4 linked regions of the Homo sapiens genome follow. The protein of the gene in region 2 purifies or fractionates together with the protein of the main gene of each other region. This does not show direct contact. Each region holds a gene or a part of one and is shown on either strand. Other genes may lie near its edges. The genes, in order: ARPC1A, ACTR3B, ARPC4 and ARPC1B.

The links.
Region 1: the proteins of ACTR3B (region 2) and ARPC1A purify together in Homo sapiens (affinity purification with mass spectrometry; 7 studies listed by BioGRID and IntAct, with this or other methods). This does not show direct contact.
Region 3: the proteins of ACTR3B (region 2) and ARPC4 purify together in Homo sapiens (affinity purification with mass spectrometry; 6 studies listed by BioGRID and IntAct, with this or other methods). This does not show direct contact.
Region 4: the proteins of ACTR3B (region 2) and ARPC1B purify together in Homo sapiens (affinity purification with mass spectrometry; 7 studies listed by BioGRID and IntAct, with this or other methods). This does not show direct contact.

What each region holds. Positions count from the first base shown.
Region 1 is NC_000007.14:99,356,879-99,363,902, reverse strand, and holds part of ARPC1A (actin-related protein 2/3 complex subunit 1A), read right to left. Parts: intron 5,564-7,024; coding exon 5,488-5,563; intron 4,359-5,487; coding exon 4,165-4,358; intron 361-4,164; coding exon 270-360; intron 1-269. UniProt on the Homo sapiens protein: Probably functions as a component of the Arp2/3 complex which is involved in regulation of actin polymerization and together with an activating nucleation-promoting factor (NPF) mediates the formation of branched actin networks.
Region 2 is NC_000007.14:152,762,743-152,769,766, reverse strand, and holds part of ACTR3B (actin-related protein 3B), read right to left. Parts: intron 1-7,024. UniProt on the Homo sapiens protein: Plays a role in the organization of the actin cytoskeleton.
Region 3 is NC_000003.12:9,796,076-9,803,099, reverse strand, and holds part of ARPC4 (actin-related protein 2/3 complex subunit 4), read right to left. Parts: intron 5,442-7,024; coding exon 5,323-5,441; intron 2,916-5,322; coding exon 2,804-2,915; intron 1,440-2,803; coding exon 1,344-1,439; intron 1-1,343. Other genes in the region: ARPC4-TTLL3 fusion protein, read right to left, coding at 1,344-1,439, 2,804-2,915, 5,323-5,441. UniProt on the Homo sapiens protein: Actin-binding component of the Arp2/3 complex, a multiprotein complex that mediates actin polymerization upon stimulation by nucleation-promoting factor (NPF).
Region 4 is NC_000007.14:99,384,726-99,391,749, reverse strand, and holds part of ARPC1B (actin-related protein 2/3 complex subunit 1B), read right to left. Parts: intron 6,049-7,024; 5' UTR 6,036-6,048; coding exon 5,972-6,035; intron 5,066-5,971; coding exon 4,961-5,065; intron 3,712-4,960; coding exon 3,489-3,711; intron 1,846-3,488; coding exon 1,738-1,845; intron 858-1,737; coding exon 651-857; intron 573-650; coding exon 497-572; intron 1-496. UniProt on the Homo sapiens protein: Component of the Arp2/3 complex, a multiprotein complex that mediates actin polymerization upon stimulation by nucleation-promoting factor (NPF).

The sequences.
Region 1 (7,024 bases), about 53 Mb from region 2:
GATTTAACATTTTGTTTCAAGAAATGAGAAACATTCTTCTCATAAGAGTTTTGTAAAAATATTCACGGAGCATGGTGGTGCATGCCTGCTGTCCCAGCAGCTTGGGAGGCTGAGGTGGGAGGGCTGCTGGAGGCAAGGAGTTGGTGGCTGCAGTGAGCCATGATTGTGCCACTTACTCCAACCTGGGTGACAGAGAAGGAGCCTATCTCTTAAAAAAAAAAAAAAAAGTTTTAACACAAACAAAATTTGTTCTGTTAGGTAGAAAATACCTTGAAATCCCAAATTGTCATGGCTCCATCGATGCCAGTAGTGCAAAATTTGCGACAATCTTGCTTGTCCACCTCATAAATAGAGACTTGACTGAAAAAAAGCAAAGCAAAAGAGATCGTAAGGTATGTAGTGGAAGTGAACACAAACATTCCTGACTAATAGTGTAAGGGCAGCTTAAGGAAATGAATTATCTTCTTCTTTATTTTTTAAATAGAGCTGGGATGCGGGTCTCATTATGTTGCCCAAGCTGGTCTTGAACTCCTGGGCTCAAGTGATCCTCCTGCCTCAGTCTCCCAAAATGCTGGGATTACAGGCATAAGCCACCACGCTCCACCAGGAAATGAATTATCTTTTAACTCCTGATTATGAACTTATCCATGAACATTAGGCTGCAACAATCTGGCTCAGAAAATACCCCAAAGCATATTATTACCAGATGTCCAGGAAAGACAAAACTGGCAAGGGGAGAAGTTAAGAACTTGCCTTGGTTAGCGTGACCTGGGGAAGCAGGAATGACCCAGCCCACACAGCACTCAAATGCTGGGAGCAGGTTGTGGGTAGGACCACAGCCATGGCGAAAACAGTATTTTTGTTTGTTTTTAAATAAACCAGAGGCATGATGAAGCATGACTGAATTCCATAGCTCCAAACAAAACCTCTCAAATCAGCCTCCAAGACAGCCAGTGCAGATAAGCCAACAGCCCTCCTTGAGTCTGAAGTGAATCATCATAAATGTTAGCAGCAGACACACCACTAGATTCCGACCAAGCTAAGCAGGGGAACAGATAAATGAAACAACTTGTCTTAGCCTAATTATCTGGAAGCTTTCAAGACAATCATCCATTGCTCAGACAATATTTTTCTTTCTCCTTTGAGATGTCTAGAACTTACCCGCCTCTTCCCCGACGCTGGGAAGGGGATGGCAAACTATGGCACACACTGCCTATGCCCGTACAGCCTGTGAGCTTAAATAAAAAAAAAAAACAACAAAGGCCAGGTGCAGTGGCTCACGCCTGTAATCCCAGCACTCTGGGAGGCCGAGGTGGGCAGATCACGAGGTCAGGAGATCGAGACCATCCTGACTAACACAGTGAAACTCTGTCTCTACTAAAAGATACAAAAAAAAAAAAAAAATTAGCCAGGCATGGTGGCGGGCGCCTGTAGTCCCAGCTACTTGGGAGGCTGAGGCAGGAGAAGGGCGTGAACCCAGGAGGCAGAGCTTGCAGTAAGCCAAGATCGTGCCACTGCACTCCAGCCTGGGTGACAGAGACTCCATCTCAAAAAAAAAAAAAAAAAGGGGGGCGGGGTTTTACATTTTTATTTTATTTATTTATTTATTGAGATGGAGTCTCACTCTGTCACTCAGGCTGGAGTGCAGTGGTGCGATCTCGGCTCACTGCAACCTCTACCTCCCAGGTTCAAGCGATTCTCCTGCCTCAGACTCCCGAGTAGCTGGGATTACAAGCACCTGCCACCAGGCTGGCGAATTTTTGTATTTTTAATAGAGACGGGGTTTTGCCATGTTGGTCAGGCTGGTCTTGACCACCTGACCTCAAGTGATCCGCCCACCCCAGCCTCCCAAAGTGCTGGGATTACAGGCGTGAGCCTCTGCACCTGACCCGGCTTTTACGTTTTTAAATAGCTGGAAAAAAATTAAAAGGAGACTATTATTTCATGAAGTGAAAATTACATGAAATTCAAATTTGAGTGTCCATAAAGTTTGACGGGAACACAGCCACCTCATCTGTTTACATCATCTGTGCCTGCTTTCCTGCCACAACCAGAGTTCAGTAGTTGCAACAGAGACCTATGGCCTCTAGGAGTCTAAAATATTTACTATCTGGTCCTTTACAGAAAAAGTTAGCTGACACAGTTCTAGTGCAAAGAGCACCTAATTTCTGCAAATAAAAGTAGACTAATCAGCAAGGGTTTGTTCTTTTCATTTTTCATCTAGAAGTGTCAGAGAGGCAATGAGAGCTTTTTCTTTCCTTAACACTTGGTCTGTATAGAAACGTAAGAGAAACTCACAAGAAGTAACTCGGAGCCATTCAAGACAGAGAAACCTAAAGAATGGAGAAAAGGTGAGTTTTGCTATAGAAGGAGAAACCTGAAGAATGTGGAGAAAAGGTAAGTTTTGCTATGCCTTCAGGTTCTTTTTTTTTTTTTTTTTTGAGATAGGATCTCACAATGTAGCCCAGGCTGAAGTACAGTGGCACAATCACAGCTCACTCCTCCCAAGTAGCTGGGACTACAGGTGCGTGCCAACACAGCCAGCTAACTTAAAAATTTTTTTGTAGAGATGGGGTCTTGCTGTGTTGCCCAGGATGGTATTGAACTGCTGGCCTCAAGTGATCCTCCTGCCTTGGCTTCCCAAAACGCTAGCATTACAGGTGTGAGACATGGTGCCAGGTCTCTGGTTCTCATTTTTCAATACAGCATTTGCAGCCTATTTTATATACAGCTGCCCCTTCTCCGCTGAAGATGAAGCACAACCTGCATTTCATTGTAATTCTCTCAAACAGGAAGTCTAGAGGTTTCCATTACTTCTCCCACCATCAATACCACAATAAGATTCTAAACATAAAAGGCTTCTCAGTAAGGGAAAATCCCATGGGACCCAACTCTGAACACAGTAATTTAGAATATCAAGCATATATTTCTCCTCCAGGTGCCTTTTTTTTTTTTTTTTTTTGAGACGGAGTCTCACTCTGTCACCCAGGCGGGAGTGCAGTAGCTCAATCTTGGCTCACTGCAACCTCCACCTGCCCGGTTCAAGCAATTCTCCTGCCTCAGCCTGCCGAGTAGCTGGGATTACAGGTGTGTACCACCATGCCAAGCTAATTTTTGTATTTTTTAGTAGAGATGGGGTTTTGCCATGTTGGCAAGGCTGGTCTCGAACTCCTGACCTCAAGTGATCTGCCTGCCTCAGCCTCCCAAAGTGCTGGGATTAAAGGTGTAAGCCATCATGCCCAGCCTCTCCTCTAGACCTTAAAAATCAAACTTTCAGGCCAGGCACGGTAGCTTACGCCTGTAATTCCAGCAATTTGGGAGGCTGAGGTGGTTGGATCACCTGAGGTCAGGAGTTTGAAACCAGGATGGCCAACAGGGTGAAACTCCGTCTCTACTAAAAATACAAAAAATTAGCCAGGTGTGGTGGCACACGCCTGTAATCCCAGCTTCTTGGGAAGCTGAGGCAGGAGAATTGCTTGAACCCGGGAGGCAGAGGTTGCAGTGAGCCGAGATTGTGGCATTGCACTCCAGCCTGGGCAACAGAGTGAGACTCTGTCTCAAAAAAAAAAAAAAAAATTAAACTTTCTGGACAAAACACAATTCTGTTGTCTTACATAATTACATATACCTGATGAAAACCCAGTCGAGACACTCCTCAGCTTTGTCATCATGATGATAAGAAATTCTGTTCCTTTAATTAAATAATCTTCTTATTTGTATCCATTACTTGAAACGACAGCTACAGTTACCTTTTCCAACAGGCTGTAACTTCGCTTTCTGTTATGTGTGCACTACTGTGGGAACGCAGCATTCAGGAATGTCTCCTTTTGTTCTCGAGTAGCTGAGAAAGGGTACCCTAGGAAGCAGCTGCCCTGAGGCCCCACCACCTCAGATTGCAACAAGGTCTGCACTGCTCCTGCTGGCTGCTGCCTTGTAATCTGCACCTTGAAGGACAGAATGACCAGGTGGTGGCGACTCCCTCCCTACCACGAGCTGGAAATGAGAGCCTGGCGGTCGGGAAGATACAGACTTCTTGCTGCACTTGTCCCTGAAAGAATGTCTGGGCCTGAGGGGCATAGAGCTTTTGTAGGAACCCAGTAAGGAAACAGCGAGGGGCAGGAAGGCACCTTGTCACCTGACCACCTCTCTACAGACGGCACCTACGTGATGCTATTCTGGTGCAGCGTCTCCAAGGCCGTGTTGCGGTCCTCAGTTGTGGCTCTCTTGTCCATGTTGCGGAAGCGTTCCATGGCAGACATGTTGCGTTGGATGCTCTGTTTTGGAATATCTAACTTGGAGACGAAGGTCAGGCAGCCGCGGTCATCGTAGTTAAAGAGCATTGGGCAGCAGTCATGGCCCTGAAACAAGACTCAGTCAGTCCCTGGAGGATGCACTGCCCACCGCCCACCTCCTTGGCAGAGTGTTCACCACGACAGGCCTCTCTTACTCTTTTTTTTTTTTTTTTTTGAGACCGAGTCTTGCTCTGTTGCCCTGGCTAGAGTGCAGTGGCACAATCTCAGGTCACCACAACCTCTGCTTCCCGGGTTCAAGTAATTCTCCTGCCTCAGCCTCCCAAGTAGCTGGGATTACAGGCGTCTGCCACCATGCCTGGCTAATTTTTGTGTTTTTAGTAGAGACGGGGTTTCACCATGTTGGCCAGGCTGGTCTTGAACTCCTGACCTCAAGTGAACCACCCGCCTTGGCCTCCCAAAGTGCTGGGACTACAGGCGTGAGCCATCGTGCCCCACCCCCTCTTACTCTTAAAAGTGAGCGGCCGGGCACGGTGGCTCACACCTGTAATCCCAGCACTTTAGGAGGCCAAGGTGGGCGGATCACGAGGTCAGGAGATTGAGACCATCCTGGCTAACATGGTGAAACCCCATCTCTACTAAAAATAAAAAAAATTAGCCCGGCGAGGTGGCGGGCGCCTGTAGTCCCAGCTACTCAGGACGCTGAGGCAGGAGAATGGCGTGAACCCGGGAGGCGGAGCTTGCAGTGAGCCAAAATTGCGCCACTGCCCTCCAGCCTGGGCGACAGAGCAAGACAGTCTCCAAAAAAAAAGTGACCTCTGAGGCCGGGCACGGTGGCTCATGCCCGCACTTTGGGAGGCCAAGGTGGGTGGATCACCTGAGGATGGGAGTTCGAGACCGGCCTGACCAACATGGAGAAACCCCGTCTCTTCTAAAAATACAAAATTAGCCAGGTATGGTGGCGCATGCCTATATTCCCAGTTCCTCGAGAGGCTGAGGCGGGAGAATCGCTTGAACCCGGGAGGCAGAGGTTGCGGTGAGTCAAGATCACCCATTGCACTCCAGCCTGGGCAACAAGAGCAAAACTCCATCTCAAAAAAAAAAAAAAAAAAAAAAGTGAGCTCTGTTTCTTCTAAAAAACTGTTCTGCTTTGTGCTAGGGTGACAGAGCACACATTGTTCCCTGTCTGAGCATCACATACAGTGCACCCCGAGGGAGAATGAAGAAAAATACTCACAGCAGCCACGACGCTGTTCTCTGAGACAAATGACACACTTAGGAGCGGCAGGAACTCTGTCTTCAGAGTCGAGACCCTGAACACAAGAACATGTGTTATCCCAAGATGCAACAGACTATTAGCTTCTTTACAGACACAGATGATCACAAAGGACCCATTCTCACAGGGGCTTCTGCAGTATCAATGGGCACTTATGTTGAAAAGGAGCCCCTGACCTCAACTTGCAGGCCTCTCAAGACAGGGGCAGCCCTGGGTTCCGGCTCTGCCTCCTTCTGAGGCCCTGCCCACTGACGACAAACTGGTTCCCAAAGCCCAGTCTTTGCATCACGCCCTTCCACCCCCAGCACAGCTCTAAAGGGATCACCCCCATGATCCCACGGTCCACTTTCCCGGGCCACTTCCGCCTAAAGTGGCTTCTCCCTGCTCTTAGCTCCTAGAGCTCTTCCTGTTACTATGACTTGGCAGCAGACACCTGTGCTAGGACCTTCTCCTTGCCTGTGCTCACCGGAGCTCCGAGAGGGCTGTGACCACACAGATCTGTGCTGACGGCCAGGCACTGTGTTAGGAGCTAGAGCTACCAAGATGAACCAAACGGTCTTAGCCAGGAGCTCACACTCGAATGGGCCATGTGTGTGTATGTGTGCCTGCAGGGACATGTGTGTGCATGTAGTTATTTGCTCTTGAATGTGGCAAAGAGATTACACAGATATGGCAGGCAGACACACTGGCTGATGAGTTAGGAGCACCTCACTTCATGCAAGAAACGATGCATTCAAAAGCTGACTGTGGCTGGGCATGGTGGCTCACACCTGTAATCTCAGCACTTTGAGGGGCTGAGGTGGAAGGATTGCTGGAGGCAGGAGTTTGAGATCAGCCTGGACAACATAGTGAGACCCAGTCTCTACGAAAAATTAAAAAAAAAAAAAAATTAGCCTAGAGTGGTGGTGCACGTCTGTGGCTCCAGCTGCTTGAGAGGCTGAGGTGGGAGGAGAACTTGAGCTCAGGAGTTCCAGCCTGGGCGACAGAGAGTGTCTCTCTAAATTAAAAAATAAAAAAAAGCTAACTGTATATGTCTCAGGACACCCTTCATAAAGTTGGCATTGAATTGAAGAACTAATGTGTCATCTTAAGCCCTTAGTGCGGTATACCTGACTTTTACTACATGAGATATTTATGTTGGAGGAGTGGAAAGGTGGAGCATGTAATCTGACTTGCAGGACTGGAAAAGGGAAAGAAGTCAGTACGAGGGTAGACAGGGACTTGTAATAAGTGTATGCTAAGAACTTACTGTGTCACAATAAACCATATAAAAATCAAGTAACACTGGCATCAAAATACAAAAGTATTATCAAGTATTAAAAGGCAAATTACCAAATGTATATAAAAATGTATAAAATAATCTTATTTCTGTTAAAAATGAAAAGATATATAAGTGCCTGTTTATGTAGGGAAATCTTCTGAAAGACTACATTTTATAATGGAAGGGACAATCTTTCTTTTTTTCTTTCTTTTTTTTGAGATGGAGTCTCGCTCTGTC
Region 2 (7,024 bases):
AAAGGACTATATATAATGATAACAATTAGACAAAAATACAGTCTGCCCTAAAGTGCACCAAAAAAGATATTAATAAAATAAAATGGACTACATGGCAAAAGATGTTTAAATACATATATATGTAAATATTGCAAAACTGAGGCCAAATATATCAATCATATCAATACATATAAATATGCTTAAATCACCTATCTATGAGTATAAATGAGCTTAAGTCATCCAACAAAAGGCAACATTTTCATATTGACTAAAAAGCAAAACAATATTTTGGGTACAGACAATTCAGAAAGAATAATAAAAGGATGGAGAAATATATATATATCTATATCAGACAAACACAAGGAGAAGCAAGCAGGGATCACACATCTTGATATCTGACAAAGTACAACTCGGCTGAGAAAACAATTAGAAGGCTACTTGATATGCTAAATCAACAACTCTAGTGAAGAGACAAGTTATTTCTATCTAGATAACCAATATGGCAGCAACAACTTTCATAAAGCAGAACCCACAGAAAATGCGAGGAGACCTTAATAGGTTACTAACAATAGGAGGCCTTAGTATGCCATTCTCAGTCCATGACAGACTAGGTACACACACACACAAAAATGTGAGCCCAGACATGGTGGCTCACCCCTGTAATCCCAGCACTTTAGGAGGCAGAGGCGGGTGGATCACCTGAGGTCAGGAGTTCGAGACCAGCCTAGCCAACATGGAGAAACCCCGTCTCTACTAAAAACACAAAAATTAGCCAGGCATGGTGGCGGGTGCCTATAATCCCAGCTCCTCGGGAGGCTGAGGCAAAGAACTGCCTGAACCCAGGAGGTGGAGGTTGCAGTGAGCCGACATCACGCCACTGCACTCCAGCCTGTACGACAGAAGGAGACTCGGTCTCAATTAAAAAAAAAAATTGGAAGCCCTAAATAACATAATTAATAAGGTAGTTCATATAGACACATTAAACTCAGAACTTATAAAGATTGTATCTCCTAGCCAGGCGCGGTGGCTCATGCCTGTAATCCCAGCACTTTGAGGGGCCAAGGTGGGTGGCTCACCTGAGGTCAGGGGTTCGAGACCAGCCTGGCCAACATGGTGGAACCCCGTCTCTACTAAATATAAAAAATTAGCTGGGCGTGATGGCGGGCGCCTGTAATTGCAGCTACTTGAGAGGCTGAGGCAGGAGAATTGCTTGAATCCAGGAGGTGGAGGTTGCAGTGAGCCGAGATCGCTCCATTGCACTCCAGCCTGGGCAACAAGAGTGAAACTCTGACTCAAAAAAATGAATACAAAGAACATTCGCAAACCCTCTTAGGCCACAATAAGTGAAAACAAACAAACAAACAAACAAACACCAGAACTATCCCACTAAAATCAGGAATAAAATAATAATGCCCACTAACTCCACTCTGATTTAAATTAACATTGCTTTGGAGGTAATGGCCTCTGCACTGTGTCAATAAAAAAGCAGTTAAGAGTCCCTAAAAATGGAAAGGAAGAGGTAAAACAATCTCTTTTGCCAATAACAGGTTTTGGTTTTTATTTTTGAGACAGCGTCTGGCTCTGTTGCCCAGGCTGGAGTACAGTGGCTCAATCTCAGCTCACTGCAACCTCCGCCTCCCAGGTTCAAACGAGTCTCCTGCCTCAACCTCCCATGTAGCTGGGATTACAGGCGTGTGCCACCACGCCCAGCTAATTTTTTTGTATTTTTAGAAGAGACAGGGTTTTGCCATGTTGGCCAAGCTGGTCTCAAATTCCTGGCCTCAAGTGATCTGCCTGCTTCGGCCTCGCAAAGTGCTTGCAATTACAGGTGTGAGCCACTGCGCCAGGCCCAATGACAAGTTTTTATATCTGAAAATCCCTAGGGATCAAGGGAAAAATTTATACAAATAATATGAGCATTCTGTAAAGCAGCACGTTATAAAATGAGTAACTACCATGAAAAACCACCATGTAATCTAGGAATGAAAAAACTAACAATCTTCATATATTCAAGAAAAACAAGATAAAATGGAAGAGAAGGCACCATTTATGATAGCAAAAAAAAATCAAATACATAAAGTTAACAAGAAATCTACCTGCAGAAACACCACAATATTCCTAAAAGACACAAAATAGACTTGAACTAATGGAGAGATAAACCATGTTCTTTGATGGGAAGACTCAGTATTATACAGATAATGATGCTCATTAAATTAATTTTTAAGTTTAATAAAATCCCAATAAAAATGCCATCAGGCTTTCTCTCCCAGAACTAGAGAAACTGATTACAAAGATCACTTGGAGGAACAACAATCGAAAATACATGGGAAAGCCCTAAAAAGGAATTAGATGGGCAGGGGAAGCCGGCACCATTAGAAATGAAATCATTCTAAAGAGCCTAATTAAAACTGTGTGGTGCTGCTATTATGAACAGACCAATAGACTAACTCAACACAATACAAAATCCAGAAAGAAACACAATTGCATAGACAAATGCAGCATATGATAAAGGCAGCATCTCCAGTCATTGGGTTTTTTCCATAAATTATGTTGAGATAAACAGGACAGCCATAGCCACACACACACAAAAGTGGATCCAACTGGGTCCATTCTTCATACCTTATCTCAGGATAAATTCCAAATGAATTAGAGATTTAAATGAAAAAAATGAAACCATTAAAAAAAAAAAAAAAACCTACCAGCTGGGCACAGTGGCTCACATCTATAATCCCAGCACTTTGGGAGGCCGAGGCAGGTGGATCACCTGAGGTCAGGAGTTTGAGATCAGCCTGACCAATATGGTAAAACCCCCTTCTCTACTAAAAATACAAAAATTAGCCCGATGTGGTGGCATGCACCTGTAGTCCCAGCTACTCGGGAGGCTGCAGCAGGAGAATCGCTTGAACCCAGGAGGTGGAGGTTGCACTGAGTGGAGACTGTGCCGCCGCACTCTAGCATGGGCAACAGAGTGAGACTCTGTCTCAAAAAAACAGAAAAGAAAAAGAAGAAAAGAAACCACCATGTAATCTGGGAATGAAAAAAACCTTTCTTAACTATGACTCAAAATCTAGAAACAATAAAGAAAAGATGAATAAATCCGATTGCCTAAAGAAAACAAACTTTGCATGGTAAAAGACAAATGATAAATAGGGGAAATATATTTGCAACGTATATCATTAAGGGTTAATATTCTCTATGTGCAGAAGAAAGTTAATGGGCCTGAGACTGCTGTCTCTTAGAAAGTCCTGCTTGGAGGAATGGCCTTTAATTGGTATCTAGGATCTTGGAGTTCAGGCGTTCCCACCATTCCCTAAATGCTAAAAGTAGTTCACTGCTCCTAGAGTGGCAAACAACGTGGTTTATGCCAATGCCTTGCTTTCCTTCTGGGACTCTGGAATTCCGGCACGTGCTATGCACAGGGTGCCTGCATGACAAGTCCCCAGTGAAAACCTTGGGCCCTGTGTCTCTGAGGAGCTTCCCTGGTACGGAGCATTGCACACGTGTTGTCACAGCCTGATGCTGGAGGAATTAACTGCATCCTGCACGGCTGCACTGGGTGAGGACTCGGGAAGCTTGCCCCGGTTTCCTCTAGGCTCCACCCCACATCTTTTCCCTTGGCTGTTTTTGCTTTGTACATTTTCACCGTAGTCCTGATTCCTCCTAGCAAGTCACTGGAACTGGGAGTGGTCTGCGGAACCCCTGAACAGACCTTAATACATGAAGAGCTTCTAAAAATGAAGAAGCAAAAGACCAAAACCCCAGAGAAAAGTTAGAGAAATGAAGAGACCGAAAAAAATAAATGCGAAGATTATCATAATCATGAAAGTGGGTTGTTAAAATATGAAGTTCAGCCTTCTCTCGTGCTCACAATCTCACCCACTCTTGCCCTTCCTTCTTCCGCCATGGGATGACACAGCACGCAGGGCCTCATTAGATGCTGGCACCATGCTCTAAGACTCTGCAGCCTCCAGAACTGTGAGCCAAATAAACTTTTTTTTTTCTTTTTTTAAGGTGTGCACTTTTACTGAACTGGTCTCAAGTCAGTGTACAGGTATGCCCTGGATGCCTCCACACTTCCACCCACTCCCAGGGAGACCAAAAGCCTTCATACATCTCAAGGTAGGGACAAAAATGGGGACCATGATAGCTGATTATTCAAAATAAAACAAAAAGTATTAAGGTGAAGATTTTTTTAAATGTTGCATTACATAATTTACATGAAAGCAATCCTGTAACCTCCCCTTTGTGGACTCAGGAGAGAACTGGGCCGTTCTCCTGAGAGAAGTGGGGTGGCTTTTGGGAGGGCAAGGGACTTCCTGTAACAATGCATCTCACAATATGTGGAATGACTATTTAAAAAAAAAAAAAAAAAGCCAGGCGCAGTGGCTCATGGCTGTAATCTCAGCACTTTGGGAGGCCCAGGCAGGCAGATCACCTGAGGTCAGGAGTTCAAGACTGGCCTGACCAACATGGAGAAACCCCGTCTCTATTAAAAATACAAAATTAGCCGGGCATAGTGGCGCATGCCTGTAATCCCAGCTACTTGGGAGGCTGAGGCAGGAGAATCACTTGAACCCGGGAGGCGGAGGTTGTGGTGAGCCAAGATCGCGCCATTCTACTCCAGCCTGAACAATGAAAGCAAAACTCTGTCTCCGGAAAAAAAAAAAAAAAAAAAAAAGGGCCAGGGTAAGACCCAGTCTCAAAACAAAAATAAAAATAAATAAGTAAAATAAAGAACAATGTACAATCAAGGTCCTCGGCCACACTGTAGAACTTTGGAGGATGCTCACTCCAACTAACTGCTGTCACCTTCACCATTCTATTCTTTTCTTTATAAATTACCCGGTGTGTGGTATTCTGTTACAGCAACACAAAACAAAGACATTAAGATATCATTTATTCTAGGTTGGTAATTTTACAAATTGGCAATAGGCTCTATTGGTGAGTCTGTAAGACACAGGCATCCTCACACATTACTGGTGAGAATGCACACTAATGAGTGTAATTTGACACTGCCTAGCAAAATTACATATGCATTTGCCCTTTGACCCAGAAATCCCATTTCTAAAAATCTAAGCCACAGATACTCAGGCAAAAAATACAAAAAGATATCCTTGCTTTATTTTTTCTTTTTTTTTTTTTTTGAGATGGAGTCTCGCTGTTGCCAGGCTGGAGTGCAGTGGCGCGATCTCAGCTCACTGCAACCTCCGCCTCCTGGTTCAAGCGATCCTCCTGCCTCAGCCTCCTGAGTAGCTAGGACTACTAAAATTAGCCCACCAGTGTGCCCGGCTAATTTTTTTGTATTTCTTTTTTTTTTTAGTAGAGACGGGGTTTCACCGTGTTAGCCAGGATGGTCTCGATCTCCTGACCACGGGTCGTGATCCACATCCTCGGCCTCCCAAAGTGCTGGGACTACAGGTGTGAGCCACTGCGCCTGGCCAGAATGCTCAAAAAATGAAGACATGTCTAAAGAACATGGAAGGCCAGGTGCAGTGCCTCACTCCTGTAATCCCAACACCTTGGGAGGCAGAGGTGGGCAGATCACCTGAGGTTAGGAGTTCAAGACCAGCCTGGCCAACATGACAAAACCCCATCTCTACTAAAAATACAAAAAAACAGCCATGCGTGGTGGTGTACACCTATAATCCCAGCTACTCAGGAGGCTGGGGCAGGAGAATCGCTTGAACCCGGGAGGCAGAGGTTGTAGTGAGCTGAAGTCACACCACTGCACTTCAGCCTGGGCAACACAGCAAGACTCCGTCTCAAAAAATAAATAAATAAAAAATAAAGAACATGGGAGTCAGCCTGAATGAGCTTCACTTGGCAAAATCTGGGACAATTTAAGCAATAGATAACCCACTGACAACAATGAGGACGGCATAATGGATTATCATTCTTTGAACAGAACGACAACTCATACAGACAATAAACAAATGAGGCCTATGGATAAGTTCTTCCTTAAAATAAAATGTTAACTAATAAATGGAGACAGAATAATAGAGTTCAAAAATCACCATTTTGCAACCATCACCATAATTAGTAATTCAGGCAAGAATCACCAATGGGCCAGGCACAGTGGCTCACGCCTGTAATCACAGCACTTTGGGAGGCCAAGGCGGGTGGATTGCTTGAGATCAGGATTCAAGACCAGCTTGGGCAACATGATGAAATCCCGTCTCTACCAAAAATACAAAAAGTTAGCCGGGCATGGTGGCTCATGCCTGTAATCCCAGCTACCCATGAGGCTGAAGCAGGAGAATTCCCTGAACCTGGGAGACAGAGGTTGCAGTGAGCAGAGATTGTGCCACTGCACTCCAGCCTAGGAAACAGAACAAGATTCTGTCAAAAAAAAAGAAAAAAACAAGAGTCACCAATGGATACTTAAACTAATGGATGAAAGTTTAAGAATAGAGTACTTACATAAAATATTCCCCCACAAATGACTTTTTTTTTTTTTTTTTTTTTTTTTTTTTTGAGATGGAGTCTCGCTCTGTCACCAGGCTGGAGTGCAGTGGCCCGATCTCGGCTCACTGCAACTTCCGCCTCTCGGATTCAAGTGATTCTCCTGAGCAGCCTCCAAAGCAGCTGGGACTACAGGCACGCACCACCACACCCAGCTAATTTTTGTATTTTTAGTAGAGACGGGGTTTCACCATGTTGGCCAGGTTGGTCTCGAACTCCTGCCCTCAGGTGATCCGCCCGCCTCGGCCTCCCAAAGTGCTGGGATTACAGGCATGAGCCACCGCGCCCAGCCAAATGACTTATTAATTACAAAGAAAAATAGTAACTGAACAGTGAAGAAACCTCGTGGACATCACCCTCTCCAAATGATCCAAGTGAACTTCATCAAGACTGAGGCGAGTCCCTATCTTAAGCCTTTCGATGGGATGCACTAAGAAGGATCAACAGGACTTCTGTGGTAGTCCTGACAAATATGCATATCCTGTATCTATCACAGAGAAACACTAGGTAACAACTGGCTGTCAAAAATGCCAACATCTTGAAAGACAAAAAAAGGTTAAGAAATTATTCCAGATTAAATTAG
Region 3 (7,024 bases), on a different chromosome or scaffold from region 2:
CATCCTGGCTAACACAGTGAAACCCCGTCTCTACTAAAAATACAAAAAATTAGCCGGGAATGGTGGCGGGCACCTGTAGTCCCAGCTACTCGGGAGGCTGAGGCAGAAGAATGGCGTGAACCCAGGAGGCGGAGCTTGCAGTGAGCCCAGATTGCAGACTATGATTCACTTTGGGAGGCCGAGGCAGGCGGATCACCTGAGGTCAGGAGTTTGAGACCGCCTAGCCAACACAATGAAACTACTAAAAATACAAAATTAGCTGGGCATGGTAGCACATGCGTGCCTATAATCCCAGCTACTCGGGAGGCTGAGGCAGGAGAATCACTTGACCTGGGAGGTGGAAGGTTGCAGTCAGTGAGACTGCGCCACTGCACTCCAGCCTGGGCAACAAAAGCAAAACTCCATCTCAAAAAAAGAAAAAAAAAGGCCAGGCGCGGTGGCTCAAGCCTGTAATCCCAGCACTTTGGGAGGCCGAGGCAGGCAGATCACGAGGTCAGGAGATCGAGACCATCCTGGCTAACATGGTGAAACCCCGTCTCTACTAAAAATACAAAAAATTAGCCAGGTGTGGTGGTGGGCGCCTGTAGTCCCAGCTACTCAGGAGGCTGAGGCAGGAGAATGGCGTGAACCCGGGAGGCGGAGCTTGCAGTGAGCCAAGATTGTGCCACTGCACTCCAGCCTGGGCGACAGAGCGAGACTCCGTCTCAAAGAAAAAAAAAAAGAGAGAGAGACTATGATTCATTTGGCAGATCTTAGAAAGGATTTCTAATTCACTGTGCTCTTTCTGATGCTAGACTATAGGCTCCGGGAATAAGCAATGTGTCTTATCTTTTTTGCCTTTTTTTTTTTTTTTTTTTTTTTTGAGACGGAGTCTTGCTCTGTCGCCCAGGCTGCAGTACAGTGGCACGATCTTGGCTCACTACAACCTCCGCCTCCCAGGTTCAACCAGTTCTCTGCCTCAGCCTCCTGAGTAGCTAGGATTACAGGCGCCCACCACCATGCCCAGCTAATTTTTGTATTTTTAATAGAGATGGGGTTTCACCATGTTGGCCAGGCTGGTCTTGAACTCCTGACCTCATGATCCACCCACCTCGGCCTCCCAAAGTGTTGGGATTAGAGGCATGAGCCACCACGCCCGGCTCTTTTTTGCCTTTTCTATGGCTGAGGTAGACCCAACTTTTCCTAAGCTTCTAATCCTCTTTGCTCCCACTCCAAGATGAAGGCCAACTCTCAATTCAGGCAGTGGGTGCCAAACAGCTGGAGTAGCTGGTTCTAGAAACAATCCCAGGCCATTCTGTAACAGGGTCCTGGGTATCGCAAACTCATGGGTCACAGGGTCTCACCTCCACAGGCTTCCTTCGAAGGATAAAGAAGTTCTCTGCTCGCATCATCATGAAGCGCATGAACTTGTGGCACAAAATCTTCTCGATCTCATCAGCCTGGGGAGTGCAAGAGAGAAATGTTTCTCTAAAGCTGACACCCAAGGCCAAAAACACCTTGTAGCCTGGTCTTCTGACTCCAGTTTTTTCAAGGCTCCCAGGAGACAGTGAGGTTTGGTACTCGGAAGGATCACTGAAGTGGGGGACCTGGCTGTCAACTGAAACAAGGGTCTACCTTGGGGCATCTCTTAATGACGACCCATTCCAGAGAGGTAATTCTGACAGGCTTCTATTGCTTCTTTCAGAGTCTACAGCTGTACTCCAAGCTGCCCTTTCCATTCTCATTTCACTAGTGTCACATTTCCCAGGGTGTTTTGCAGCATCACCTGGGCTATCAGAGATAACCTTAGGTGGTCTCTGCTTTAATAACACTGAACATCCAACAATCCCTGAAGTTTCTCCCTTCTGAATGCTCAACATTTCTTTTTTTTTTTTTTTTTTTTTTTTTCTGAGATGGAATCTCGCTCTGTCACCCAGGCTGGAGTGCAGTGGTACGATTTTGACTCACTGTAAGCTCTGCCTCCCGGGTTCAAGCGATTCTCCTGCCTCAGCCTCCCAAGTAGCTGGGATTACAGGCGCGTGCCACCACGCCTGGCTAATTTCTGTATTTTTAGTAGAGACAGGGTTTTACCATGTTGGCCAGGCTGGTCTTGAACTCCTGACATCAAGTGATCCACCCGCCTTGGTCTCCCAAAGTGCTGGGATTACAGGCATGAGCCACTGTGCCTGGCCCTGAACTCTCAACATTTCTAAAGGAAGATTATTGCTGCTGGTTGCTAGCATGCCCTTAACACCTCTCAACACTTGTTAACCTCCCATTTTAGCAAGGAAAGCAGGCCCCAGGTTTATAAGTTTCTGTAGAAAACAGTGTGTAGTCTGCATTTAATAACAGTGCTTCGTTTTCATCCTGTTGAAAGTTTAGAGTTGCCCTCTACTGGCCAGGCATGGTGGCTCATGACTGTAATCCCAGTACTTTGGGAGGTTGAGGCGGGCCCATCACCTGCGGTCAGGAGATGGAGACCATCCTGGCAAACATGGTGAAACTCTGTCTCTACTAAAAATACAAAAATTAACTGGGCGTGGTGGCGGATGCCTGTAATCCCAGCTACTTGGGAGACTGAGACAGAAGAACTGCTTGAACCCGGGAGGCAGAGGTTGCAGTGAGCTGAGATCATGCTGCTGCACTCCAGCCTGGGCGACAAGAGTGAGAATCCGTGTCAAAAAAAAAGGAAGCAGAGGCTAGGTTTCCTGCACTCTGAATCTGGAATCTGGCACACTGATCTCTCAGATGGGGACCCCGGACTGAAAGAGGCTGAAAGGACTGAAAGAGGCCTTACGTTGGGCCTCCTCCATGGTGAACTTACCTGTTTCACAGCAATGCTGACCCGGACAGAGTTGATGGAGCCCTCAATCAGAACCTTTTCCTTCTCATTCCTGCTGATGGTCACAGGTTGTAACAGGAGCTCTTTGCTACTCCTGAAAACATAATGTGACAGAGTACTTGTACTACAGAGGGATAGAATAGTCAGAGTGACCCCACGCAGGTCCTGGAATCACTATGAGACCATAGAGTCCAAGGAATAGAAGACTCACAAGCAGGAGTGCTCCAAGATGGGGGCCAGTGAGTGTGTTCTTCAGCAGAAAGAGCACAGGCTCTGAAGTCAGGGCGAAAAGGTTTTGAAATCCAGCCTCCTCTGTTACTTTCCTTGGGCAAGTTACCCTGTTGGAATCTCAATTTTCTCATCTGTAAAATGACTCTGATTCCTAATTCACTGGCGAGGACTGAGAGAGATCAAAAAGGGTCAAATGTCTAATAGCGTGCCTGGCACATAGTAGGAGCTTTACAAAAGATAGCTATTTTAGTAACTACAAGTTGAACATCCCCAATCTGCAAATCTGAAATCCAAAATCTGAAACTGGCTGGGCACAGTGGCTCATGCCTGTAATCCCAGCACTTTGAGAGGCTGAGGCTGGTGGATCACCTGAGGTCAGGAGTTCGAGACCAGCCTGGCCAACATGGTGATATCCCATTTGTACTAAAAATATAAAAATTAGCTGGGCATGGTGGCGCACTCCTATAATCCCAGATACTCAGGAGGCTGAAGCACGAGAATTGCTCGAACTCAGGAGGTGGCAGTTGCAGTGAGCCAAGATCATACCACTGTACTCCAGCCTGGGTGACAGAATCAAACTCCATCTCAAAAAAAAAAAAAAACCTGAAAGTTTCCGAGTGCTGACAAGATGCTCAAAGGAGATCCTCATTGGAGCATTTTGGATTTGGAATTAGGGATGCTCAACTGGTTAAGTATCTGCAAATATTCCACAATCTGAAATACTTTTGGTCCCAAGCATTTTGGATAAGAGATACTCAACCTGTACAGGCAAACCAATATACCATTTAGGAATACAGAGAGAACACCTGTCTTAGAGGTAAGGAAAGGCTAAAATTGAACACAGTTTGGCTTCCTTTAATTATCAATCCAGAAATGATTCATTTGCCTCTGAGACCCCTATGAGTTCAGGTTACAAAGTAATGCCTCTGAATACCTAGAGATCTCTAATAGTAATTAATTGTGGTGTGGTGTCTCTAAACTGCTAACCATTTTCAAAGGCCCACTGGAAATCGTGTACGTTACACAGTATAACAGGGCATATCCTAACATCTTTATCAGTTATTTTTAAAATTAAAAATTAAATCGTATCATTTAATGTTGTAACCCAGATTATCTCAGTTATGTATGTACCAGAATGAATTTTATTTTATTTTATTTTATTTTATTTTATTTTTGAGACGAAGTCTTGCTCTGCTGCCAGGCTGGAGTGCGGTGGCACGATCTTGGCTCACTGCAACCTCCGCCTCCCAGGTTCAAGCAATTCTCCTGCCTCAGCCTCCCGAGTAGCTGGGACTACAGGTGCATACCACCATGCCCAGCTTATTTTTGTATTTTTAGTAGAGACAAGGTTTCACCATGTTGGCCAGGATGCTCTCGATCTCTTGACCTCATAATCTGTCTGCCTCGGCCTCCCAAAGTGCTGGGATTACAGGCGTGAGCCACTGTGCCCGGCCTATTTACTTATTTTTTGAGACAGGGTCTCACCCAGGCTGGAGTGCACTGTCGCAATGTTGGCTCATTGCAACCTCTGCTTCCCAGGCTCAAGAGATCCTCCTGCCTCAGCCTCCAGAGAAGTGGGACTACAGGCATGTGCCACCATGCCTGACTATTTTTGCATATTTTTTTGGTAGAGATGGAGTCTTGCCATGTTGCCCAGGCTGGTCTTGAACTCCTGTACTCAAGCGATCTACCCACTTCAGCCTCCTAAAGTGCTCGGATTACAGGGGTGAACCACTGCACCAGGCCTCCAGATTAAATTTTAAAGGGGAAAAAGATATTTATGAAATGGAAACTAGATAAGAGAAAATCATTCAAAATATGAAGTATTTGGATTAGGGGGTCAGAGTGTCTAGGCTGGTAGGTAAAAAAAAAATCCCTGATCATTACATTAGAAAAGTATGGAGATGGGAAAAAAAAAAAAAAAAAAGAAAAGTATGGAGATGGAATCTCAGATAACAATTATCTGACCATTCCTTAAACTACCAGTGTTTTCAACAATGCCACAGGAGAGACTTCATCAACAGCCCTGCTCTGAGAAGTCATACCTTGTGTTAACCAATCTTGTCTTTTCCCCTGGGTTCTGTCCTGCCAACCCACTGACCCTATTTTCTTAACTCCAAATTGGGAATCACCATTCAGCTGGCAGCAAGACAAAATGTCAACTGCAGCTTTCCTGACTACTGCAGGACATAAGTTCATGGCACCTTCTAGACAGCAGCCATCTCTGTGTGCTGCACCCCTCATCCCCACCTTGACTTGTCCTTCCCTACCTGACTTCCACTTCCGGCTTGTTGTGTCGTTCCACAACCTGGGAGGAGAAGTTCTCCAGGCAGAGGGCAGCCTGCAATGTGGCCCGCACGGCACTCAGGTAGGGGCGGAGAGTGGCAGTCTATAGGAAATAACACAGAGGAAAGGGAAGATCAAAATCTGTCACGCCAAACCCACCGATCCCCTATTCCAGCTCCCATGAAGCCAGGTAGCACTGAGGGTGCAAGGCTCTTAAGACACTACTGTGAACAGAACAGACTAGGCCTTCGAGACGCCTTCCAAGGTGTAGAGTGGTAGTTTTCAACAGGAGACAATTTTGCCTGCCAGGGTACATTTGGTAATGTCGAGACATTTCCTTTCTTTCTTTTTTAACCTGGGGTCAGACCAGAGGAATGCTGAGACATTTTCAATTGTCATGACTTGGCAAGAAGGGGAACTGCAGGCATTCAGTGGACAGATATCCACTAAACATACTACAATGCACTACAAAGAATTATCGAGACTCAAATATCAATAGTGCTAAGGTTGAGAAAGTGATCTAGAGACACACCAGTGAATGCATGATTGTCGTCAATCTATTAGGCCAACAAATGTATAGGTGTACTGTTTGCCACGCACTGAGCTAACTGGGAATTCAAAGATGATTAACACTGTCTCTACCCTCAAACAGCTCAACTGGATAGCAAATATACAGAAAATAACTATGATATAAAGATGACATGTGAAATATTTAGATTTACAAGTAATCTATATTTGCAGAAGAAACTGGTTTTGAAGGTGAAATGGGATTAGGAGGAGAAAAAGGAGAATAAGGACATTCTTTTTTTTTTTTTTTTTTTGAGACAGAGTCTCGCTCTGTTGCCCAGGCTGGAGCGCGGTGGCACGATCTCGGCTCACTGCAAGCTCCACCTCCCGGGTTCATGCCCTTCTCCTGCCTCAGCCTCCCAAGTAGCTGGGACTACAGGCGCCCACCACCACACCCGGCTAACTTTTTGTATTTTTAGTAGAGACAGGGTTTCACGGTGTTAGCCAGGATGGTCTCAATCTCCTGACCTTGTAATCTGCCCGCCTTGGCCTCCCAAAGTGCTGGGTTTACAGGCGTGAGCCACCACACCCTGCCAGAATAAGGACATTCTTAGGAGAGGGATTAGCTTCTAGCTGCACTGGTCAGTCCTTGTATCAGCCAAATTCTTTCCCACCTCAGAGCTTTACACATGCTTGACCATCTATCTGTAGGCTTTTCTCCTCTTTCTTTGCCTAAGTCATCCTCCAGATCTCAGCTTAATTAAGGAAGGCCTCTTGAGAGAGACCTTGACATCCCCCTATAAAGTATTTATTACAATTGACAAAAAAATGTCTTTCATGTCTTCTTAATATTTATTTTTGAGAGGGAGTCTCGCTTCTGTCACCCTCGCTGGAGTGCAGTGGCACGATCTCTGCTCACGGCAATCGCCGCCTCCTGGGTTAAAGCGATTCTCCTGCTTCAGCCTCCCGAGTAGCTGGGATTACAGGCGCACATCACCATGCCTGGCTAATTTTTGTATTTTTAGTAGAGACGGAGTTTCACCGTGTTGGTCAGGCTTGTCTTGAAATCCTGACCTCAGGCAATCCGCCCACCTCGGCCTCTCAAAGTGTTGGGATTACAGGCGTGAGCCAACGTGCCTGGCCTTTTTTATTTTTTTTTGAGACAGAGTCTTACTCTGT
Region 4 (7,024 bases), about 53 Mb from region 2:
ACAGGTTTTGTGTCGCCGAGGCTGAAGTGCAGAGGTACGACCATAGCTCAGTTCAGAAGCCTCGACCTCCCATGCTTAAGTTATCCTCCTGCCTCAGCCTCCCAAGTAACTGGGATTATGAGATTACAGGTGCACCACCACACCCAGCTAATTTCTTAACTTTTTGTAGAGACAAGGGTCTCACACTGTGTTGCCCGGGCTGGTCTCAAACTCGTGGCCTCCAGTGATACTTCCACCTCAACCTCGCAAAGTGCTGGGATTTTAAGTGTGAGCCACCGCACCTGGCCAAATCTTTACTCTGTTAAGCAACTGCAGCCAGGGACTTTTGGTTACTGCAGCATAACCCAACCTGTTCTGCCCAATTCTGGTACATGAGAGAATGCAAGGAAGAAAAAAAGGAGGGAGGCAGGAGAAAGGAGGGAGGAGATGAGAGTTGCTGGGCTCTCTCGGAGGCCTGCTGTGACCACACACCCTCCCTCCCCTCCCTATTCCTCACCGCTGCCACCAGGCTGTTGTCTGTGATGAAGGTCAGCGCCAGCAGTGGTAGTGTTTCAGAGGCCAGAGTCGCGACGCTGAGGGGAGAGAGCTGTGAGTCACGGTGTCCCACTCCTCTGCACTCACCTCCTCCCCTGGGGATGGCCTCGACTCACGCCATCTTCTTGTCGGCATCAGCCAGGCAGACGGTGCTGTCGTGGCTTACCCAGGCCACGCGGCTCCCGCTGGCTGAGAAACAGACGCCATGTACCCAGCCGCAGCTACTGCTGGATTCGAACATCAGTTCCCCAAAGGGCATCTTGGAGCCCCACGGGGTGGGTGCCGGCCGTTCCTCCACCTCCTTGATGTAGGCTGAAAAGATCCTACCGGGATAGGCAAAGTAGAGGTAAAGTAGCCAGGCATGGTGGTGCGCACCTGTACTCTCAGCTACTCAGGAGGCTGAGGCGGGAGGATTGCTTGAACCCAGGAGGTCAAGGCTGCAGTGAGCTGTGATTGCGCTACTGTGCTCCAGTTTGGGCAACAGAGTGAGACTGTCTCAAAAAAAAAAAAAAATTTTTTTTAAAGGGTTAACAGGTGCCTGGGCATGGTGGCTGAAGCTTGTAATCCCAGCACTTTGGGAGGCTGAGGCAGATGCATCACTTGAAGTCAGGGGTTCGAGACCAGTCTGGCCAACATGGTGAAAACCCGTCTCTACATTTAAAAATACAAAAATTAGCCGGGCATGGTGGCATGCGCCTGTAGTTCCAGCTACTCAGGAGGCTAAGGCAGGAGAATCGCTTGATCGCTTGAACTCAGCAGGCGGAGGTTGCAGTGAGTCAATATCACGCCACTGCACTCCAGCCTGGGCGAAAGAGCGAGAGTCCGTCTCCAAAAAAAAAAAAAAAATCCTGTCTAGCTGGGCGTGGTAGTCTTGCTTGGGAGGCTGAGAAGCAAGAGGATCGCTTGAGTCCAGGATTTGGAGGCTGCAGTGAGCTATGATTGCACTACTGCATTCCAGCCCGGGCAACAGAGCAAGCCCCTAGCTCAAAAAAAATAAAAGAGGTGGGCAGAGGCCCATCCAGCTGAGACATGAAGGGTTCCCCAGGAACTAGAACCTTCAACCGACGCCCAGGTCATCCACTGGTAGCAGGTCTGGAATGTGTCTAGAAGCTGGGGTGTAGAGCTTTCAGGTGCGGCTCCCCGCTATGATGTCAGCAGTCAGTTGACGTCAGCCCCGCCCTCCCCCATGGCGCCCTGTCTCACCGACACTTGAAGTCACAGGAGCCGGCAGCCAGCAGCACATTGTTGGGGTGCCAGTCCAGGCTGAGGACGGTGGAGCGGATGGGCTTCTTGATGTGCTTGCAAACCCACCTGGGAACGGTGGTCAGGCAGACAGGGAGAGAGGGACAGGCAGGTGGGACTCATGGACCTCAGCACCAGGGACTCCAGGCTCCCACTGCTCCCTGCAGCCCACCAAAGACCCAGGAGAGAGGCGACTGGGCATTGCCAGCCCACAAGGCCGTCAGGGCCCTGGGGCGGCAGGGATGTGCTGTGTCGCTTCTGGAGTGGGAACTCTGTGCCCTCTATCCTTTAGGCCACACAGTCACCCTCAGAGCAGGCTCAGCAAAGTGATGCCATCACCAGAGGTCACACAACTACTAACTGGCCATGGTGGGATGCAAATTTGGGTCTCTCAGATGCTCCTGGCTGGCCTCTGCCCTCAGCCATGCAGGGGAGATTAAAAACTAAGACGTGGACTGGCAATCATGGCTCACACCTGTAGTCTCAGCACTTTGGGAGGCTGAGGTGGGAAGATTGCTTGAGGCCAGGAGTTCAAGACCAGCCTGGACAACGTGACAAGACCCTATCTCTACAAAATAAATAAATAAATGATTTGGGCCTGTAGTCCGAGCTACTCAGGAGGCTGAAGTGGTAGGATTACTTGAGCTCAGGAGGCTGAGGCTGCAGTGAGCTATGATCACAACACTGCACTCCAGCCTGAGCGACAGAGCAAGACCTTGTCTCAAAAATATATATATGGCCGGGCGCAGTGGTTCACGCCTGTAATCCCAGCACTTTGGGAGGCGGAGGCAGGAGGACCACCTGAGGTCAGGAGTTCAAGACCAGCCTGACCAACATGGAGAAACCCCATCTCTACTAAAAAATACAAAATTAGCCTGGCGTGGTGGTGCGTGCCTGTAGTCCCAGCTACTCAGTAGGCTGAGGCAGGAGAATTGCTTGAACCTGGGAGGCAGAGGTTGCGGTGAGCTGAGATTGTGCCACTGCACTCCAGCCTGGACGACAGAGCAAGACTGTGTCTCAAAAAAAAAAAAAAAAAAAAAATTGGCTGGGCACGGTGGCTCACGCCTGTAATCCCAACACTTTGGGAGGCCGAGGCGGGTGGATCATGAGGTCAGAAGTTCTAGACCAACCTGGCCAAGATGGTGAAACCCCATCTCTACTAAAAATATAAAAATTATCCGGGCATGGTAGCAGGTGCCTGTAATCCCAGCTACTTGGGAGGCTGAGGCAGAGAACTGCTCGAACCCGGCAGGCAGAGGCTGCCGTGAGCCAAGATCGTGCCACTGCACTCCAGCCTGGGTGACAGAGTGAGACTCCATCTGAAAAAAAAAAAAGGAACAAGATGTGGCTGCGAGCTCGTGAGTGGTGCCTTGAGAAAGTGACTGCTACAGGGCCTTTGCTAATCTGTAAAGTGGGGACAGTGACCGATGCCCAGTCCACGGAGCTGCAGGGAAGTCAGGACTAATGTGTGTGCAGGGCTTAGTGAGGTGCCCCCAGATGTGTTTCTGGTGTGGTGGGTGTCACTGGCAGTGAGAACATCCGGACGCTGCAGAGAGGCCCTTGCCTCATGAATGAGGCCCAGAGAGGAGAGGATGGACTCCCCCAGGGTGATGGGAACAGGGGTCCTGACATCCCATTTGGTGCTTCCCGGGGACACTCTAGTCCTGCCCCCGGTCCCTAACAGCCCACTCTGGCCCTGCCTAGGTACCCACCAGTCATTCTCCTGCTCGAAATAACAGATGGAGATCACACGAGAGCCGCTGCCCACAGCAAACTTGTTCTCGTTGGGGGCCCAGCGCACGCAGCGGGCAGCCCGGTTGATCCGCAGGATGACCAGCGTGGGCTTCCATGTGCGGCCCTTCAGCGTCCACACGTAGGCGTTGCGGTCTGTGCCGCAGGTCACAATACGGTTACTCTCGGGGGCCCAGTCGATGCCTGTGGGGGGATGGAGGGAACACAGGAGGCTGATGACACTCAGGCAGAGGTGGCTGTATGGTGGCCACATGGGAGAGGCTGAAAGGCCACCATCCAGGTGGAAGCTGTATCTGCCCAGCAGGCACTTTTTTTTTTTTTTGAAACAGAGTCTCGCTCTGTCACCCAGGCTGGAGTGCAGTGGCATGATCTCAGCTCACTGCAGCCTCTGCCTCCCAGGTTCAAGCAATCCTCGTGCCTCAGCCTCCTGAGTAGCCGGGACTACAGGTGTGTACCACCAATCTTTTTTTTTTTTTTTTTTTTTTGAGACAGAGTCTCGCTCAGCCGCCCAAGCTGGAGTGCACTGGCACGATCTCAGCTCACTGGAACCACCATCTTCCGGGTTCAAGCAATTCTCACATATCAGCCTCCCAAGTAGCTGGGATTACAGGCACCCGCCATCATGCCTGGCTAATTTTTGTATTTTAGTAGAGATGAGGTTTCACCATGTTGACCAGGCTGGTCTTGAACTCCTGACCTCAGGTGATCCGCCCGCCTCCGCCTCCCAAAGTGCTGGGAGTACAGGCGCAAGCCACCGCACCCGGCCTCTTTCTTTCTTTGTTTTTATTGCGACACAGTCTCGCTCTGCCATCCAGGCTGGAGTGCAGTGGTGCAATCTCAGCTCACTTCAACCTCCGCCTCCTGGGTTCAAGCGATTCTTCTGCCTCAGCCTCCAGAGTATCTGGGACTACAGGTGCGTGCCACCACACCCGGCTAATTTCTGTATTTTTCAACATTTAGTCATGTTGGCCAGGATGGTCTCGAACTCCTGACCTCAAGCGATCCACTCGCCTTGGCCTCCTGAAGTGCTGGGATTACAGGCATGAGCCACTGCACCCGGCCCAGCAAGCACTTTTTACTGAGATCCAGTGCTTATTTAGAGTGACACCAGGGGGCACTCCTAGAGCTTATGAGGGAGTGTCAGAGCCCTCCATGCTATCAGCAAACATGCTGGAGGGCAAAGCCAAGAGGCAGAAAAGATGGGTTCTTGGTCATGTGGAGCTGCTGGATCAAGCCTCTCCTGAAGCCCTCAACCCTGTGAGTTTTTGGTAACATGAGCCAACACAGTCCCCTTAAAATTGAAGCCAGTTTGAATCCGGGTTTCACGGTGAGTGGGCAGATGCTCCACAATGAGTGGCCATGCCCTGCCTTGCACCACCCCCCCAACCCACCACCTCCTTTCAGGACGGTGGTCCCAGCCACCCTGACATACCTGTCACCTGCCCGTTGTGCTCCTTGAGCTCGTGCACCTTGGTCCATTTGGCACCGCTCTTTTCATAGATATGCACCTCATGGTTGTTGGGGCAGATGGCAATCTCTGAAGGGGAGATGGAGGGAGATTGAGGGGCCCTCTCCATGACTGCCCTCTGCCAGGACACACTACACAGTGCACCTAGGCAACAACACCTCACCTTTCATGACTCAGTCTCTCCTCTTCTGCCTTGCAGGGGCCCCCTGAAGTCCTTCAGGCCCTGCTAGGCCACCCTGTCTTCTCCTGGAACTGGCTGTCCTTTACTCGCAGCAATGAACCCTGGGACCTCTCCCCACCCTATTGCTCTGGCCAACCAGGAACCCTTCGCTGCTCCTGCTGACACCTCAGGGCCCCTGCACCTGCCAGCCCCTCCCCAGCTGGGGCACAGTTCCCTTCCTCTCCCCCTCTGGGTCTCTGGGTAAATGTCAAAATGTCATCTCCTCCGAAAGGCTTTTTCTTGGTCACTTTTTCTTTCTTTCTTTCTCTCTTTTTTTTTTTTTGAGACAGAGTCTCGCTTTGTTGCCCAGGCTGGAGTGCAGTGGTGCAATCTCGACTCACTGCAACCTCCGCCTCCTGGGTTCAAGCAATTCTCGTGCCTCAGCCCCCCGAGTAGCTGGGATTACAGACACCCACCACCACGCCCAGGTAATTTTTGTATTTTTAGTAGAGACAGGGTTTCACCATGTTGCCCAAGCTGGTCTGGAACTCCTGACCTCAAGTGATCCACCCACCTCAGCCTCCCAAAGTGCCGGGATTACAGGCATGAGCTACCGCAACTGGCCCATTCCCTCCTTAAACTTTAACCCAGGAGGCCCCTGGTCAGCTGGAAGACCCAGGGGTGAGGCCAGGGGACAGCCACATGGAGCCCATGGTCCGGGGGCCTGGCTGCTCCAGAGTCCCCATGTGTGCTCTGGCTGGTCCCCATCCCAGGAGGTGGAAGCAGCCACCCACCGGCCCCCAGCAAGCACTCACGGGTGCGGTCCTTGTTCCAGGCGTGGCAGCTGATGGGCTCCACCAGGAAGCTGTGGTAGGCCATGGCGGCTTGGCTCCTGTGCCCGAGAGAGGAAGAGAGAATCCACGTCAGCCCCAACCTTGCCCCTGACTTCACCCATACCAGGCCCCAGATGATCCTCACAGGCCTCACACCAGGGAGGCCCCTCAGTTTAGAGGGGCAGCAGTTTGCAGAGAGGAGCAGCAGGGGCCAGCCCTGGCTCCCAACTGGCCTGACATGTTGCTTCCCCTCCTGGGGCCTCAGTTTCCCTCCTTATAAAAGGGCAGCTTTCACAGGATGTCTCTGAGGCTCCAGGGACAGGGTGGAGGAGACGGTACTACAGGGGAGATGCTCCCTGGGGCGGGGTGGGGTGCTAGGACTCCAAGCTGGACAGGCCCCTCACTTGTCATCTGTGCCTCGGTTTCCTCATAGGATGGACGACCCCCCCCCCCCCACCCAACTTCCCCTGCCCCATTAAGGATGGGATGAAGATGAAGTCATCCAGGCCAGGCCCGGTGGCTCATGCCTGTAATCCCAACACTTTGGGAGATCGAGGCAGGCGGATCACTTGCGGCCAGGAGTTCAAGACCAGCCTGGCCAACATGGTGAAACTCCGTCTTTACTAAAACTACAAAAAATTAGTCGGGTGTGGTGGCGGGCACCTGTAGTCCCAGCCTGAGGCAGGAGAATGGCGTGAACTTGGGAGGCGGGGCTTGCAGTAAGCCGAGATCGCACCACTGCACTCCAGCCTGGGCGACAGAGTGAGACTCCGTCTCAAAAAAAAAAAAAAAAAAAAAAAAAAAAATTAGCCAGGTGTGGTGGCACCTGCCTGTAATCCCCACTACTCAGGAGGCTGGGTGACAGAGCAAGACTCATCTCAGAAAAAAAAAAAAAAAAAAGAAATGAAGTAATCTCATAAACCACCTAGAAAGGTGTCCAGCACATGGCAGTTGGCCCTGCCGTGCCCAGAGCCCTGGTCTTCCCCCACACTGCTCAGACGGGGAGAAGGGAGGTGGCCGGTCTGCAGGGGCTCA